Linked DNA regions of Homo sapiens: region 1 is linked to region 2. Evidence: fine-mapped expression QTL. A gene starts in region 2. The other region holds a variant in brackets. All regions are shown on one strand. Distances are between the middles of the regions.

Region 1 (8,000 bases), 30 kb before region 2:
CATTGCTGTGCGTAAATATCCCCCTTGGCCTGGCCTAACTTTTTGGACCTGTTCCTGAACACAGTCCCCCATGAACCCTACTCCTTCTGAGTTTCCTCAAGGTTGTAAAGCAGCCATCACATCATTTCCCTGCCTGGCCCAGAGCCCCTTTACTGATTTCCAGCTCTATCACCTCTTTTTCCAGTTGACAATCAGGTTAATTTTCTAAAACACCCTTAAATCATGTTACTTTTATATCCAAAACTTGTAATCACTTCCTATAAACCACAGAACAAAGTCCTAATCCTTAGCTTGGAACTTAAGGCCCTCCGCTAAGCCGGTTCCATTTACCTTTCAGCCATATTTTCTACTCTCAGATAACAGAACTTTTGTTCTCAGCAGCAGGTCTGTTTATGATTTCCTGGACACAGCTTGGTCATTCTGGTTTTGCACCTTTTCTCATTCAGCTCTTCCCACTGGAATCATCTCTCCATGCCCTCAACTATCCACATACCACCTGTTCTCCAAGCAGCACAAACCCCATGGGTGCTGGCTGCCTTCCTTGATGCTTCTTTCCTAAACTCCTGTAGCTATGAGATCCTGTGGCACTTTGCCTGGGTGGTGTAGACTTATGCCTTATGTTTTCTAGATTTATAGACTTAAGTCTGATGTTTTAGATGTCATTGTCAACCCCACACAGAAGGGGCCATAGCTTATACAGCTTTGATTTCCTGATAAGATCCAGCTAAGAGGAAGTAATATAGATTTTAATGTTGGACAGTTTGGAAGCAGTTCAAATTCTGCCTCCACTAGAACCTTGAGCAAGCTAAGCCTGACCTCTCTACATCTCATAAAATTGTGGGATTATAGTTCCTGCTAATGTTTGCAAGGATGAAAAGAGATGATGTGGAATACTTGGACTTATAGTAGGTATTCATTACATATTTGTTGAATGAGTAACAGAAGTTTAATAAACGTTTCGTTGATTTGTTAACTGATGTGAATATCCTTAAACAAACTCCTCTAGTGTCAGTACTCAGTAAAATGACATGTTCCAAACTTTAGTTACAGTCACTTTTATGTTCTGTGTTAAAGATTTCTTCAAGTGAGACCTGCTGTGACCTGTCTTCTTCTAGGCCCCACCACAGAAAAAGCCAAAGCAGTCCAAACGTTTAAAAGAACGAACTACCATTCACAAATGCATTTGTAAAATATCCTTTGAAATCAGCATCAAATAATTATGTGCTGTTGTAATTATAGTTCTGGTGAGCTCTCCATATTCTATGAGAATTGATTAAGCTAATGTGAACCAATGCATTTCAGTTAGTGCTGAAATCCAAGTTATCAACTAAATCTAAATAAACGACCGAACTGGACACTTATTTAATACAGTGCTTTTGTATGTCAAACGCGCCACATGCTCTGAGCACATTCTCAAGTAGGTTATTCCACTGCTTCTTCCTCCACAAATATGAACAATCCAAAGATAGCTAATTAAAATATGTGTTATTATGAACTGAAAGAGTCCTTCGGTTGGAAATGACCTGAAATCACCATTCTGAAAAGTCTACACAAAAAGCTGGCATATGCAAAGGTTGTTCACTCTCTGCTGGGGAACAATTAAATTCAAAATTCATTCAGCTGCTACTCTGTCTAAACACCATGCACTGGAAAGGCAGATTCCTAAGGCTAAGAAAGACCAATAAACTCATCATGCTCTCAGGTAAACAGAATCACAGGACTTCAGTGTGGCCATGCCAGCCTGGCTCAAGGCCTCATTTTATGTGTGATATTCTGATGATTCCATTAAAAGAACTCAGGAAACTTGATCAGAAGGCACAGTCTCCCACCCAGTCATCAAAAGTGGACCCAGGGAAGGATTCTGCCCTTTTAAGGGAGAGCAAAGCAAAGGGCATTTTTGGAAGAGTCAGATTAACGCCTTTCTAGAGACTTACTGTCATTATTAGTAGTAGAGGACTCAATTCACTGTAATATGACTTCCATGCTCACCATTATATTCAAACAGATTAAATGAATTACCACGTGTAAGGTGTTTAAAACAGTGCCTAATCAACATTGGGGGTTGTTATGATGATTATTGGCAAGATCTTCAGTGTTTATCCTCTTTCCCCTGCACACTCAGTGATCTGCTCAGCCACAGCTACAGACTCAACCTCGCGGGCTACCCTCCCTATAAAATGGCTTATTGCACTAGGTTGACCCAAGTGAAATCAACACACAGGATGAACCCATTAGATTCTCTTAGGAATTTAAGCTGTATAAAATCAGACAACCTGTCAGTTATATGGTTGACCATTTAACTGGAGATTCATGTAGAATCTGGACTGGATTTGGCAAACCAAGGCATTAGAAGCAGAAACAACAAGCAGCCAATAATCTCTAAAACAGCATCTCTCTTCCATTTCTTCCCATTGACCACTCTTTTTCTGGAAAACTCTCTCTTCAGCTTCCAAGATAATGTTCTCTCTCAGAGCTTTTCTGTCTTCTCATCGCTCTTCCATAGACTCCTTGCCATATTCCTCTCTTCCTCCATCTCTCTTTAGGGTCAGGGATCCATAGCTCTGCCTTCAGCACTCTTCTACTCTTCCTCCCTACACCCCTCAGTGATTTGTACCTGCTTCCAAGGCTTTGTCTACCATCCATATGCTGCGGGCTCCCAAATCTCTATCTTCAGATATCCAAATGCCTAGTAGGTATGATTCCCCCCAGAGCCACTGAAACTCAGCAGGATCAAGATGGAATTCATCTTCCTATCATCACCCTTTGCTCCTTTTCCCATATTCCTCACCACTAGCGATGACCCACACTTCTCCCCATTTTGTAAGCTAGGAGCCATCCTATTGCTTGTCTCCTTCATTAAAAAAATTAATCTATCAAGTCTTGCAAATTTCAGCTAAACGCCATTCCATCACTGTTAGTTAGCTAATTGCTCCCAGAAGTCTTCCTGACAGCCTTTGAACTGGACTCCCTCTCTTCCATGAAGCCATTCTCTTCTTTGCCAGTAGAGTAAAATTCCCTTTAATTTTATTTTTTTTAGAGACAGGGTCTTGCTTACTCTGTCACACAGGCTGCAGTGCAGTGGCATGTTCATGGCTCACTGAACTCAAGTGATCTTCCCACCTCAGCCTTCCAAGTAGCTGTGACTACAGGTGTGCACCGACCATACCTGGCTAATTTTTAAAATTCTCCTTGCTTGGAAAGTCCTTTCTCCTTGGGTGCTTACTCACTCATTAAGGTGTGGCCTAAACATTGCTGTGAGGCTTTGGCTAATCTTCCCACCTACAGACAGACTGAGCAACTTCCTCCTCTGACCCCACAGTATCCTGTTTCTACTGATATCTCATTTCCCAAACTTACCTAATTTAAGACTCTCATGGGCACTTGTTAAAAATACACATTCCCAGGACCATCCCCAGGAAATTCTCATTCAAGTGGTCGGCGGTAGGGCCCAAGAAACTAGGGTTTTTATGTTGTTGCCTTTTTTTTTTTTTAAGTGTCTCAAGTGATTTTAATGCTTAGGCAAATCTAGGTAACACTAACCAATATAAGAGAACGTAGGTTAAATATGGATTTTTGCTGACATGTCGGCCTTCTTCACCAGATGGGAACACCAGAGAGGCTGCTTTGCTCACGTTTATCTTTGAATCTGTATGCCTGGAATACTATGGGGGTTCAAAATTTACTGAATGAATGTTTCTTAAACTAATTTGTCATGCCCATGATACTTCATAAACTTGGTTTGTTATTCAAATGTTTGTTATGGTCAAAGGTAGCGAGCCAGATGCTGAGATAGTCTTGGAAGAGGATAGGTGCCAAAGTGGTGGATAGGTCATAAGAATGGGAAATATTTAAAAATAATCTTGGCTGAGTCACAGATTTGGGGGCAGCCATACTTGGTAGTACTGTAAGATGAGCTCTACAGAATTAATAAAATTCACTGTGTAGAAAGATAGAAACTCTTGCCCCTCACCCCACCTCCCTCAGTTGGATGTATGTTCCCTTGAACAAGCAGAATGGTACAAAAGTTAAGAGCATGAACACAGGGTCATGATGGGTTGTGCATACTGATTCCACCAGTGGCCAACTGCTGTATGCCCTTAAGTAAATTACTTAACCTCTCTGTTCCTTCACTTATAAAATGATTGTAATAACAGCTGCAGCCTTACTGAACTGTTATGAGGATTAAATGAGGAAATGTACATAAAAGCACAGGGTCTGGCTCTTAGTTAAGCTCTCAATAAATGTTAGAAAAAGAAAAATAGTTGTTTTTAATGATAATTAAAATGGGTCTTTTCATCTCATCTCTTACCACTCCACCTTCACATTCTGCACACCTATCAATCTAACCCCTGAAATTCCCCCAGATATCCCTGTTCTCTCTGGCTTCTGGACCTAGCTCATGCTATATTCTTCTTAATTATTTAATTATTGCATAAGTCACATCCACATGGCTCAAAAACTGAAAAGATATATACACAAGCAGGTATGCAGAAGCCATGCTGCCACTTCTGCCTCCGCCCCCATCTCTCTAGCCTCCCTCCTCCTCACTTCTAAAAGTAGATGGTCATTTCTATTCGTTCCTTACATGCTCTGTCAGTTTTTTATGCATAAATTTTAAAATAGGCATTTATTTGCTTAATCCTCCTTTCCACACTATTACACACCTTTTTCAGATCTGTCTTGGCAAATCTTTCCACATCAGTACAGAG[G/A]GTTTTCTCATTCATTTTACCCTTGCATAATGTTCCGGTGTATGAATATATATTTAACTAGCTCTTTTTTGATGAATACTTGGATGATTTCCAGTCTTTTATTATTACAAACATTGCAATAATTAATAACCTTATACTTAATTTTTTGCATGTGAAAATATATCTGTGGGATTAATTGCTAGACGTGGATTACTAGGTCAATCAGTATGAACATCTGTCATATCAATAGATATAACTAAATTGTCCATTATAGAATATTACACCAATCTATACTCCTACCAGCGATGGATGGGAGTTTCAGTTCCCAACAGCATTGCCACAGAGTATATCAAGACTTTTGGATTTCTACCAATCTGATGAATGAACAATGGTATTTCAATGTGATTTTAGTTTAAATTTCTATTATAAGCTATATTGTACACCTTACACCTTTTATTATGTCTACGACTGTTTGTATTTTTTCCTTTTTCTTTTTTGGACTCTCATTCATACTCTTTACCCCTTGTTCTATTCCATTATTGGTCTTTTCTTATAATTTGCAGGAGCCCTGAAGATATTATGTAATCTTCCCAGTTCTTTTTTTTTTTCTTTTTTTTTTTTTTTGAGACAAGGTTTCGCTCTTGTTGCCCAGGCTGGAGTGCAATGGCACGATCTCGGCTCACCGCAAACCTCCACCTCCCAGGTTCAAGCGATTCTCCTGCCTCAGCCTCCCAAGTAGCTGGGATTATAGGCATGCGCCACCACGCCTGGCTAATTTTTTGTATTTAGTAGAGACGGGGTTTCACCATGTTAGGCTGGTCTCGAACTCCTGACTTCAGGTGATCCACCTGCCTCGGCCTCCCAAAGTGCTGGGATTACAGGCCTGGGCCACTGCGCCTGTCCCCCAGGCCACAAGTTCTTTGTGGGTTTTTTTTGTTTTTTTTTTTTTTTGAGATGGAGTTTTGCTCGTGTTGCCTAGGCTGGGGTGCAGTGGCATGATCTCGGCTCACCACAACCTCTGCCTCCCAGTTTCAAGCAATTCTCCTGCCTCAGCCTCCCGAGTAGCTAGGATTGCAGGCATGTGCCACCATGCCCGGCTAATTTTGTATTTTTAGTGGGGACGGGGTTTCTCCATGTTGGTCAGGCTGATCTCCAACTCCCGACCTCAGGTAATCCACCCGCCTTGGACTCCCAAAGTGCTGGGATTACAGGCGTGAGCCACCGCAACTGGCCCCGGCCCTGACCCCTGGTTCTTTATTCCTTAACTTTGTGAATAATGTTGTTTCTGACTTGTTTATGGAGTTGCTTTCCATACAGTTTTTTTTTTTAAGGTAGTTAAATTTATCCATCTTTTCTTTCAGGTGGGACTCCAATTATTCTGGTTATACCACTGCTTAGAGACAACTAGTGGAACTGAATGTGAGTATCACTTCAAGCAATTAAGAAAAAGAGAGAGTTATTTTGGTCGGTTTTACAAAGAAGTCTGAATAAGAAGGACTGTTTGGGTTTTTGTTTCTTAGAAATTTCCATAGTTCTGCCGGCCTTGGTGGCTCACGCCTGTAATCCCAGCACTTTGGGAGGCCGAGGCGGGAGGATCATGAGGTCAGGAGATCGAGACCATGGCTAACACAGTGAAACCCCGTCTCTACTAAAAATACAAAAAAATTAGCCAGGCGTGGTGGCGGGCGCCTGTAGTCCCAGCTACTGGGGAGGCTGAGGCAGGAGAACGGCATGAACCCGGGGGGCGGAGCTTGAGGTGAGCAGAGATCCCACCACTGCACTCCAGCCTGGGTGACAGAGTGAGACTTAGTCTCAATAAATAAATAAATAAATAAATAAATAAATAAAATAAAAAAGAAATTTCCATAGTTCTTCAGGGTTTTCCTCTGAAGAAGAAAGAGAATACATAATGTCAGTTACAAATGGTATATTTAAGGTTTTACCATCCTGAGATTTGACGAATTTATAATTATATTAAATTTACAGGTGTGTTTTATCATTATCTTTTGAAAAATAATAAACTCTAACAATAATTTCCATGCCTAATTGTTTTCCACACTATTGCATATAGTCATATATGCCTAATTTTTAACTAGAATATTATATATTAATTAGCTTTTTAGTGTTATTATATGTATTTTAATGAATTATAAATTCCTTAGAAGGCCTACAATAATTTTTACTTTATAGTAAGATTCCAGTTACACCTGACTAGTTAGTACACATCCATTTCTCCTGGATCAAATTCAACCCTGACAGAAATGAATATTAAATATACAGGACTTAATTGATTAGAACATTAGAATAAAAGTGTATATGAAAGAAAATAGGTGGCATTGTCCAATAGCACAGTCTAAATCAAATCATTTAAAAAATTACATCAAATCCAGATAAAACTATGGTTTAATTTCCACTTAATCATCATTTTTTGTATTCTTCTCTCTTGATTCTTTTTTCTTTTTAAGAGTTTTTTAAATTTTTAATTGAGACATAACTGTACATATATATGAAGTACAAGGTGATATTTCGATACATGTATACCTTGTGTAATGATGAAATCAGGGTAAGCATTCCATCACCTCAAACACTTATCATTTCTTCATGCTGAGAACATTCAACATCCTCTCTTCTAGCTACTATAGGCACTTCACTGTGCAATGGAACACCAGGACTTATTCCTCCTATGTAACTGTATTCATCCTCCCTTCCCTTCTATCGTTACCAGCCTCTGGTAACCACTATTCTACTCTCTATTTCTATGCGGTCATCTTTAGAATCCACATATGAGTGAGAGAACATGCTATTTGTCTTTCTGCATCACTTTTTGAAATGGAAATAACCTTTCGTATATTTAGAATTTGAATCCTTCAACCAAGTGGGCTAGTCTATTAAGCAAATTAACCAGTTAAAATCCAAAATAAGATAGTATTAGCCACAATAACTTTTTTAATATAGGAGCCTGTATTCCCACCTACGTCATAAGCATCATCAGTTAGTCATAGTCCATACTTATTTTATCATTTTGATTAATTTTTTCAAAATATATTTATTGAGCTCAACTATATGCCAAAGATTGTACTTGGGGCTGTGGGGATAGTGGTGAAAGGGACACACACAAGGCCTGCAGCTCCTAAAGTCACCTCTGACTCTAACCATCATGCCCAAAGTACTCAGCAAATATGAACTGTTGAAATTGTGCTGAAAATATATTGCAAACCTAGTTAAAATGACCAGATTTAACAAATAAAAACATAGGATGCCCCATGCAATATTTGAGACATACTTATATCAAAAAAGTATTTCTTGTTTGTC
Region 2 (8,000 bases):
CTAAGACTTCCAAACACAAAGACTAATGAGTGCCCATTACTATTTAGTGATAGATTTTGAAATAAACAGAAATCTCCTAGGACTGAGATTGACATCATTGATGCCTTTCCCAGACTCTAATTCCCTAAAAGTTCCATGTTAGAGGTAAGCCTAATTATCCCCTCAGCAAACCACAGAGCCACATGCATCAACAGAAAAGTGATAAAAGACAAAGATAACTATCTCAAAGAGACATATAACTGAGTTAACCACATTTATCTTTTAACCGCACCAAAGTCCAAACAGATGATCTAATAAATGGCGATGGCATGAATTGGGAAACACTAATTTTAAGGTGCACATAGGAATAGTTGAAGGCACAGGAAGGGTGGAGAGAAGTTAGTCCAATATTTACTCTATGCATGGATTATCTTTCTTGGCCAAAGTTGTTGGCAAAAACTCACTGATACTCTGGTACCTCTACCAGAGGTCAACCAGTGTCTTCTATCCAGCCTATCACAATAAGAATTCAAATTGTCACCTCTATATTTCTGCATTTGTTTTTCCTTATTAAATATTCTGGCTGGCCAAGCACAGTGGCTCAAGCCTGCAATCCTAATACTTCGGGAGGCCAAGGCAGGAGGATCTCTTCAGCTCAGGAGTTCAAGACTGGCCAGAGCAACAGAGTGAGACCTCATCTCTACCAAAACAACAACAACAAAAACTTTAAAAGTTAGCCAGGCATGATGGTGTGCACCTGTAGTACTAGGTACTTGGGAGGCTGAGGCAGGAGGATCACTTGAGCCCAGGAGGTCGAGACTGCAGTGACCCATTATAGCAGCACTGCACTCCAGCCTGTCTCAAAACAAAACAAAAATATTCTGGCTGTTGTCATTTACTGAGTCTTCAAAACAGTATGATGTGTGCTGTTTTTTCTTTTTATGTATGCCAAACCATGACAGTATAGTTTAATACAAATGAAATAGCTACTGCATATGAAGCACTAACTCTGGGTCTGGCACTGAGCAAGACAATTTTTAGGAGTTACTTACTTTTCACGACAATTGTAAGGGGAAAGTTATTATTACCCACATTTTACAGATGAGAAAACTTTGGGCCAGAGCAGTTACATCCTGAAACAGAAGTACGGAGGGGGTCAAGAGCATGAGTTTTGAAGCTGGACAGACCTGAATTTCAGTAGTGCCCTGCCCCTGGTATTTCTCCTCCCCTGAAGACAAAGCTGTTTCCTGAGATGAGAGCTACTGTGGGGATGAGATGTCTGAGTGTCTGGCCTCTAGGAAATGCTTTTTGTCCCTCCTTCCAGTAGTTGCTCATCTAGAATTCATGTCTTGCCTTCGGTAGTGTCTTTATATAGTTTTAAAAGTAATTACTTCTGGCTGGGGGCAGTGGCTCAAGCCTGCAATCCCAGCACTTTGGAAGGTCAAGGTGGGTGAATCACCTGAGGTCAGGAGTTCGAGACCAGCCTGACCAACGTGGCAAAACCCCGTCTCTACTAAAAATACAAAAATTAGCTGGGCGTGGTGGTACACACCAGTAGTGCCAGCTACTCGGGAGGCTGAGGCAGGAGAATTGCTTGAACTCGGGAGGCGGAGGTTGCAGTGAGACGAGATCGCTTCTCTGCACTCCAGCCTGGGTGACAGAGCGAGACTCCATCTCAAAAAAAAAAAAAAAAAAAAAAAGTGGCTACTTCTAGAAAAATAATGTTATACTGTGCACAATTCTGAAAATAAGGAAAAGGTAATTAGCAGGGCATGATGGTGGTGCCTGTAATCCCAGCTACTTGGGAGGCTGGGGCAAGAGAATGGCTTGAACCCGGGAGGCGGAGGTTGCAGTGAGCTGAGATCATGCCACGCTACTGCACTCCAGCCTGGGTGACAGAGTGAGACTCTGTCTCAAAAAAAAAAAGAAAGAAAGAAAATAAATAAGGAAAAGGTTGATAATCCCTTACATCTATGGAGAGCGCTGTGGTTTTCAGTATCTTTTCACTCCTTTCCAATTGTTTTCCTATTTGATCCTTCGGAAATAACTTAATATCTCAGTCAATGTTTTCAGATTGGGTGTCTCCAGAACATAACAGCACTGTCTGTGGGCCTTGAAAAATGTTAATCCAGGAAATGATGTAAGAGGAAAGGCCCAGGCCTTTGCCTTCCCTTCTTTCCAGTCCCCTAGAGGCAGTCTGTCCCTTTCCCTCTCCTAGGTGTCTATGTGTGTGTATAGGGGGTGGGGGTGGGAGGGTAGCCAGGGTTGGAGGTAAGTGAGGGGTGGAAATGATGAAGGGATGAATGTGACTGGTAGCTGTTTCTTTGGTTTCCATGGTAAAGATGCATAAAACAGAAGGAATGTGCTACCTTCCTTTATAAAAGAACACTTAATTTATTTTTTCTAAAGCTTATGAAAAAGTCATCCTACACTCTCTCATTTAAACCAAAACTATCTCCTCTTCCTAGAGTGGTCTGAACTGAAAGGCAATATTCATCCAGAGAGTGTGGCCAAAAAAACCTGGAAAAGAGGTATCTCCTTTTCCGCCTCCCCCACCCAGTATACCACCTGGCATACAGTAGGTGCTCAACAAATATTTGAAGTTACTGTAGTGGCTGCTGTGTGAATTAACTGTCCTCTGTTGACAGTGCAGTAAACAATGTGATGATTCCTATAAGACCGTAAAAGATCAGCTCAGTCTCACTCCTAGGCTAGCTTGTGAGGTCAGCAATACTTATCAAACAATTGATTAGTTCAGAGGTCACACAAGCGGACAGATTTTGCTTTGGCCTGCAAGGTTTCAAAACACATTTTGAATGAACATTCAAAGCTTGAGAGATTCCACATGCATTTACAGCTGGCTTGCTGTAAATAGTACCGATAGTACCTATCTAGCCCTTTTGGGAACTTGGGTTGGTGCCTGGGTTATAACTGCGTTAGACTAAATCAAAATTCAGAAAAGTTCTATTTCAGTTAGCTGTTTCAGGAGTTAATTTAATGCTGTATAAAACAGACACACACATACACCCACCTAACAAAAAATAGAAGGTTCAGAATGTGTAAATACAAAAACCAAACCCTCCGGCCCTCAAATTTCTCACTGCTTCTGACTGTGCAGAGCCCCCGCAATTGATTTGTAATGACCCTGTTCTCAAACCCTCCTCTTCCTGGGCTCCTGCCGACTGGAGGCATCAAGAGGAGAGACCACCTCGTCCCTTTCTAATGCTTGACAAAGTCCCCCATCACAACTGAGAAGGAATTCTTGATGCAAGCAGGAAGGTGGGAATTAAAACCCCACTGATATAAAAAGCTACTGGCACAGCGGCTTGCCATTTAGAAGACACTATTTAGGATTTTACAGAAATTAATCGCATTAAATAGGAACAAAATACAAGTGATTTTCATTTATTATTTCAAAAATATGTTACAACGCTGAGAGTCCCCCACTTAAAAATTACTCCTGAGAAAGGCAGCTGGATTTTGATAAATGTCCCTTCCCAAATTGATGCCACCTACACCCTGGACCCTCCTGCTGGTCCAGTATGGTCCCTGGAGCCACAGAGCCCCCACCCTGTTCTCTTGCTGCTCAAATGACCCTTCTAGCCCTGCATGGCCCCTCCACACTCCTTCCCCACTTCTTGGCTTTATATTTTGTTTTTTTTTTTAAACCTCTCCCCGGCCCACCACAAATACACCTCAAAGATATTTCGGTAATACACATTATATAAGAATAAACATTTATCAGGCACCTACTATGTGTCCATTGCACGTCTATCTACTAGAGAGAGGTCAACCCATTCAGTAACCAGTACAATCATCTGAGGCTTGCAGGGTGGTGGCTGAAGATAGAATGTTCAGCGGCCAAACTGCTGAGTAGGATTTTATCAAGGCTTGCTGACCACATCTGACGTGGCCCCAGTGCTGTCTAGAAGGCGCCATCCAACTCTAAGAGTCTATGATTACTGCTCCCGGTTTTTTTTTTTTTTTTTTTTTTTTTTTTTTCAGTTTATTGGGGTATAATTGACAAATAGAACTGCTGCCATTTTTAAGAATGCAAAATTTATAGGTGCCCATGTTGCTGGGAAAGAAACTTTTCTCTTTGACACGCCCTCATATTTCCCATTAAAGGAGGACAGCTCAGATTATTAATTCTGGGTAAAAGTGTGCCTCCTCAACACAGTCCCCTCATCTTACTCCACCAAACCGAGGGGCACCCTCACCCCTCATTACTGAACTCGAGATGCCACCCAATGCCGAAATCAAGCTAGAGGGCTAAATCCCGCCAGTGTAGAAATGCAATTTCCTCCAGTTTGCTTTGATAATTGCAGTTTCCTCTATGAAAGTCCGTCATTAAAGCCCACTCCAAGGAAGTTCCCATAGACAAAACCCCAGCGACCAGACCTGGCAGAACGGGAGTCAGCTCGATCTGCTCCGAGACCCTACAGAAGAAAAGGCGGGTCTGGAAGAGCTCTTGGGAAAGAAAGGGGATTTCCTGTCCCTGGTCCTGGATCTAGATCCGGACCCACTTGAGAAGCTCGGGAGGTCTCTCGCGGGCGCGGCGACCCCAAGGAGCGCAGATTCCCAGAGTCGCGGGGTGGAGAGGGGCTGCGGGGCGAGGACTGCCCCGGGAATTCCACACAGAGCCTCTTTCTCTTGCTTCCCTCCGTGCCCCACTCTTACTCCTCCTCCCGACGCCCCCTCCCGGGGAGGGTGGGACCCAAGTGCCGGGGAATTGGGGGTTGGGGGTCGGCGCGTGCAGTGCGGTGGCGGGGAGGGAAGCCGGCGCCTGGAAGCCTACCGTCTTTTGCTTCTTGATCCCCGACATGCTGGCTGGCTGCGGCGGAGCCCGGGTCCCGGGAGCAGAGACCGAAGGACGCAGGGACGGCGGCGGCGGCGGCGGCAGCAGCAGCAGCAGCAGCAGCAGCGGCTGCCGGACTCCCGGGAAGGAGGTATAAAAAGGCTCCGCAGACACGTCGCACTTCCCTTGACCAGCCCCCTTCTCCTACTCCTCCTCCCGCCACGCTCCTCTCCGCCCCGTCGGTTCCGCAAGCAGCGCCCAGCCTTGGGGACCCGGCCGCCGCCGCCTAGGCGGGGTCCCCGGCCCGGCCCCTACTCGCGGGCGCGCGCTCCGCCAGCCCCGGTCCCGGGCGAGACCTTGCAGCGGAGCGGCAGATGGCACGCCCGGCACGCGGCCTGGGGTCAAGTTCACCCCGCCCGCCCCACCCCCAGAGGGTCCCAGAGCGTCCTCCACTCCCCTCACCAGCCTCCCGCGCCTCTTCAAGGAAGTCTTCCTGCCTCTAGGACCTAAGAGCTTATTTGGTTAAGGGCAAGGATGCTTGAAGCCGCCAGGTTTGTTGGCAGGATCCTCATATGCAGTAGTAAAAACGAAGGTTCACACTCATGGATCCTTACAATGCACTCCGCTGGGCTCTGCCTTAATTCTCATGGGCCCCCTCCATCCTGCCCCGACCCCGGGCAGCAAGTCCTACTATCTTCCAGTTTTACAAACGAGCAATTGAGGCTTTCAGACTTTGCCAAGATTATATTCCAAATGAGGGGATTCAAACCCAGGCTGACAGCCTCCTCAGTGCAGGCTTTCTTCACCAGCATCATCACACATGGTGATAACTCCCAAGGTTCACAGCTTGTCTGTTCACTATGCATCGTGCTGAGGGGCTTCCATGCACTTCCTCCATTCCCGCTCACAACAGTATCGTCAGGTTACAGGTATGGGCCTGTGGAGGCACGGCCCCTCCTCACAACGACAAGCAAGTGGCAATGGCCAATGGAAGCCCAGCAACTTGTTTCAGTCCACCCCCAAAGTAGCACTTCTGTTCCACTGGAATGGGCCCTGAGGAGGAGGAAAAGGAGGCACAAGATGAGCAGGCTTAGGCCTAGGGCGCCAAGATTTTACCAGAAGGCAGTATGGGGCAACCCTCTGAACGAACCCAAAGGCAGTATGGGGCAACCCTCTGAACGAACCCAAATGTCAAGGCCAAGTAGAGGTGAGGGAGAGAAGCTCTAGTGACAAGCACTTTGGGGGCAGTCACTGGGTCTCACACCCCTTGTACCTTAACTGACTCCTTGTGTAATGCTACAAACGGATGGATATGACCATACTCTCAAAAGAAGTAACGTAACACACAAGGGCCACACTTCTCATTCCCACTCTAGTGTTCCTGCTGTGAAAGAGTTGGAGTAATATTCTATGGAGGTGAGGGATGGGACTTTTCTTTCATACCTAATTGTATTTCTGGAAGACTGCCAGCTTTCCAGACAGACACTTGATCTGAGTATTCATTGACTGCCCTTCGCCGTGGGAAGGTGGGAAAGAAAAATAAATCAGGAGTCAGAAACGTAAAAGGCAGCCTGCATGTCTGTACAGTCTAGAGTTGTAAGCTGATTTATTTTCTTACTCATTTTGAGTAAACTGCCACCACTGCCTTCCAATGTAAGCAGCTAGGGGCAAATACTGAGTTTGAGTTTCTGTTCTGCATACAAACTAGCACATTTTAAATGTATATGAAGTTTAAATAGCAACATCCTATTCTTATTTCATTGGAAAAATCCTTTTATATTAGTTTCCACCATATCTTAGACTCTGCCAGATCTTGCCCTAAGAAAAGGTAAAGTAAATGTGAATTGAAAAATAGCAATTTGCGGCCTGGCACGGTGGCTCATGCCTGTAATCCCAGCACTTTGGGAGGCCGAGGCAGTCAGATCACCTGGTATCAGGAGTTCGAGACTAGACTGACCAACATGATGAAACCCTGTCTCTAATAAAAATACAAAATTAGCCAGATGTGATGGCATATGCCTGTAATCCCGGCTACTTGGGAGGCTGAGGCAGGAGAATCGCTTGAACCCGGGAGGCAGAGATTGCAGTGAGCCGAGATTGCGCCATTGCACTCCAGCCTGAGTAACAAGAGTGAAACTCCATCTCAAAAAAAAAAAAAGAAAAATAGCAATTTGCGTGATTGTTATTTTGTTTTTATATTGCATCTAAAAACAAAAAGCTGTCTTCTTGAAACAGGAAGTTAAGGACAAATACGTAAGCTACTTCCTGGAAAAGAAATATATGATTGTTTAGATCTGGGAGAGGTTGTGAGATCATTTGTCCAATTTCCCCATTCCTGTATTTTACATATGAGCAATGTAAAACTGGCGCTTAGGGAAGGGAGGGCATCTGACCGTAGTCACTAGTTAGGAGCAGAGCTGAGGCTTTAACGCAGGTCAGCCTGACTTCCCAAGTGCTCTGACCCCAAATGTCCTGCCCACTGAGTCACCCAACTTCCACGCCAACTATTTCAATACCCCATGATAACTGTAAACAGGACTGCTTATCTTGTTTTAGATTTCATTCATTCTCAAAAATTATTTTGGAATAGGCATTCTTTTACTGTGAAAATGGAGGCCTCAGTTCTTTTGGACTCAAGCTAGGCTGTTTATGACCCTTTGATGTCACAGATCACCAATTTAGTCGTGATTCAGCACAGCAGTTTACTAAAAAGCAAAACACTCTTTTTTTATTTTCTCAGGGTCTTTCCTTTTAAAGGCAATAGATTTCTTTTTCATCTCACTACCCTCTTGCTCTTAGGAGAGGACATTCCTTCTGAAAAGATATGAGCAACGAGAAACTTAATTTTCGGAGCCTATGATTCGGACATATAGGAACTGGGAGAAGACTCATTCAGGGGACAGAGGAAGGATTGAGGTCTTCTGCTTCATATAGACACAGAATCTGTAACTTCTTCAGTAGTGTTCCCTCCAAGACTTCCCTGAAAAACACCATAGATAACATTGTGCCAATTGATCATCCCTGATACTACTGATAACATTTACATGAAGGTTTCCCCTGTACCACCCCTTCTCCACCATCTCATTTTCATTTCTTCCTTCCAGAAGCTGTCTGCACTTGCATAACTTAATAAAATGGTGATTGCTAGTTGATCCTTATATTGTTTAGAAAAGATAGAATCAGTCAACTCCTCCAAATAAACAGGAGAAGGATATACAAAGAA

Evidence for each region. PIP is the estimated chance that this variant, and not a neighbour inherited with it, causes the effect. A credible set is the group of variants that fine-mapping cannot tell apart.
Region 1: its variant is the best candidate, but not a certain one, in a credible set for the expression of PAPSS2 in whole blood (TOPMed, PIP 0.54).

What each region holds. Positions count from the first base shown.
Region 1 is chr10:87,686,980-87,694,979 of GRCh38, reverse strand. The region is part of intron 1 of PAPSS2 (3'-phosphoadenosine 5'-phosphosulfate synthase 2); the gene reads right to left. Among named protein-coding and RNA genes, the nearest start is that of PAPSS2, 31 kb to the right of the region's middle. The variant G/A (reference allele first, on the strand shown) is at 4,710.
Region 2 is chr10:87,656,786-87,664,785 of GRCh38, reverse strand. It overlaps PAPSS2 (3'-phosphoadenosine 5'-phosphosulfate synthase 2), which reads right to left and starts at 4,908. Exons shown (of 13, transcript NM_001015880.2): 1 at 4,778-4,908. The coding sequence starts at 4,804. RefSeq lists a silencer at 4,921-5,160.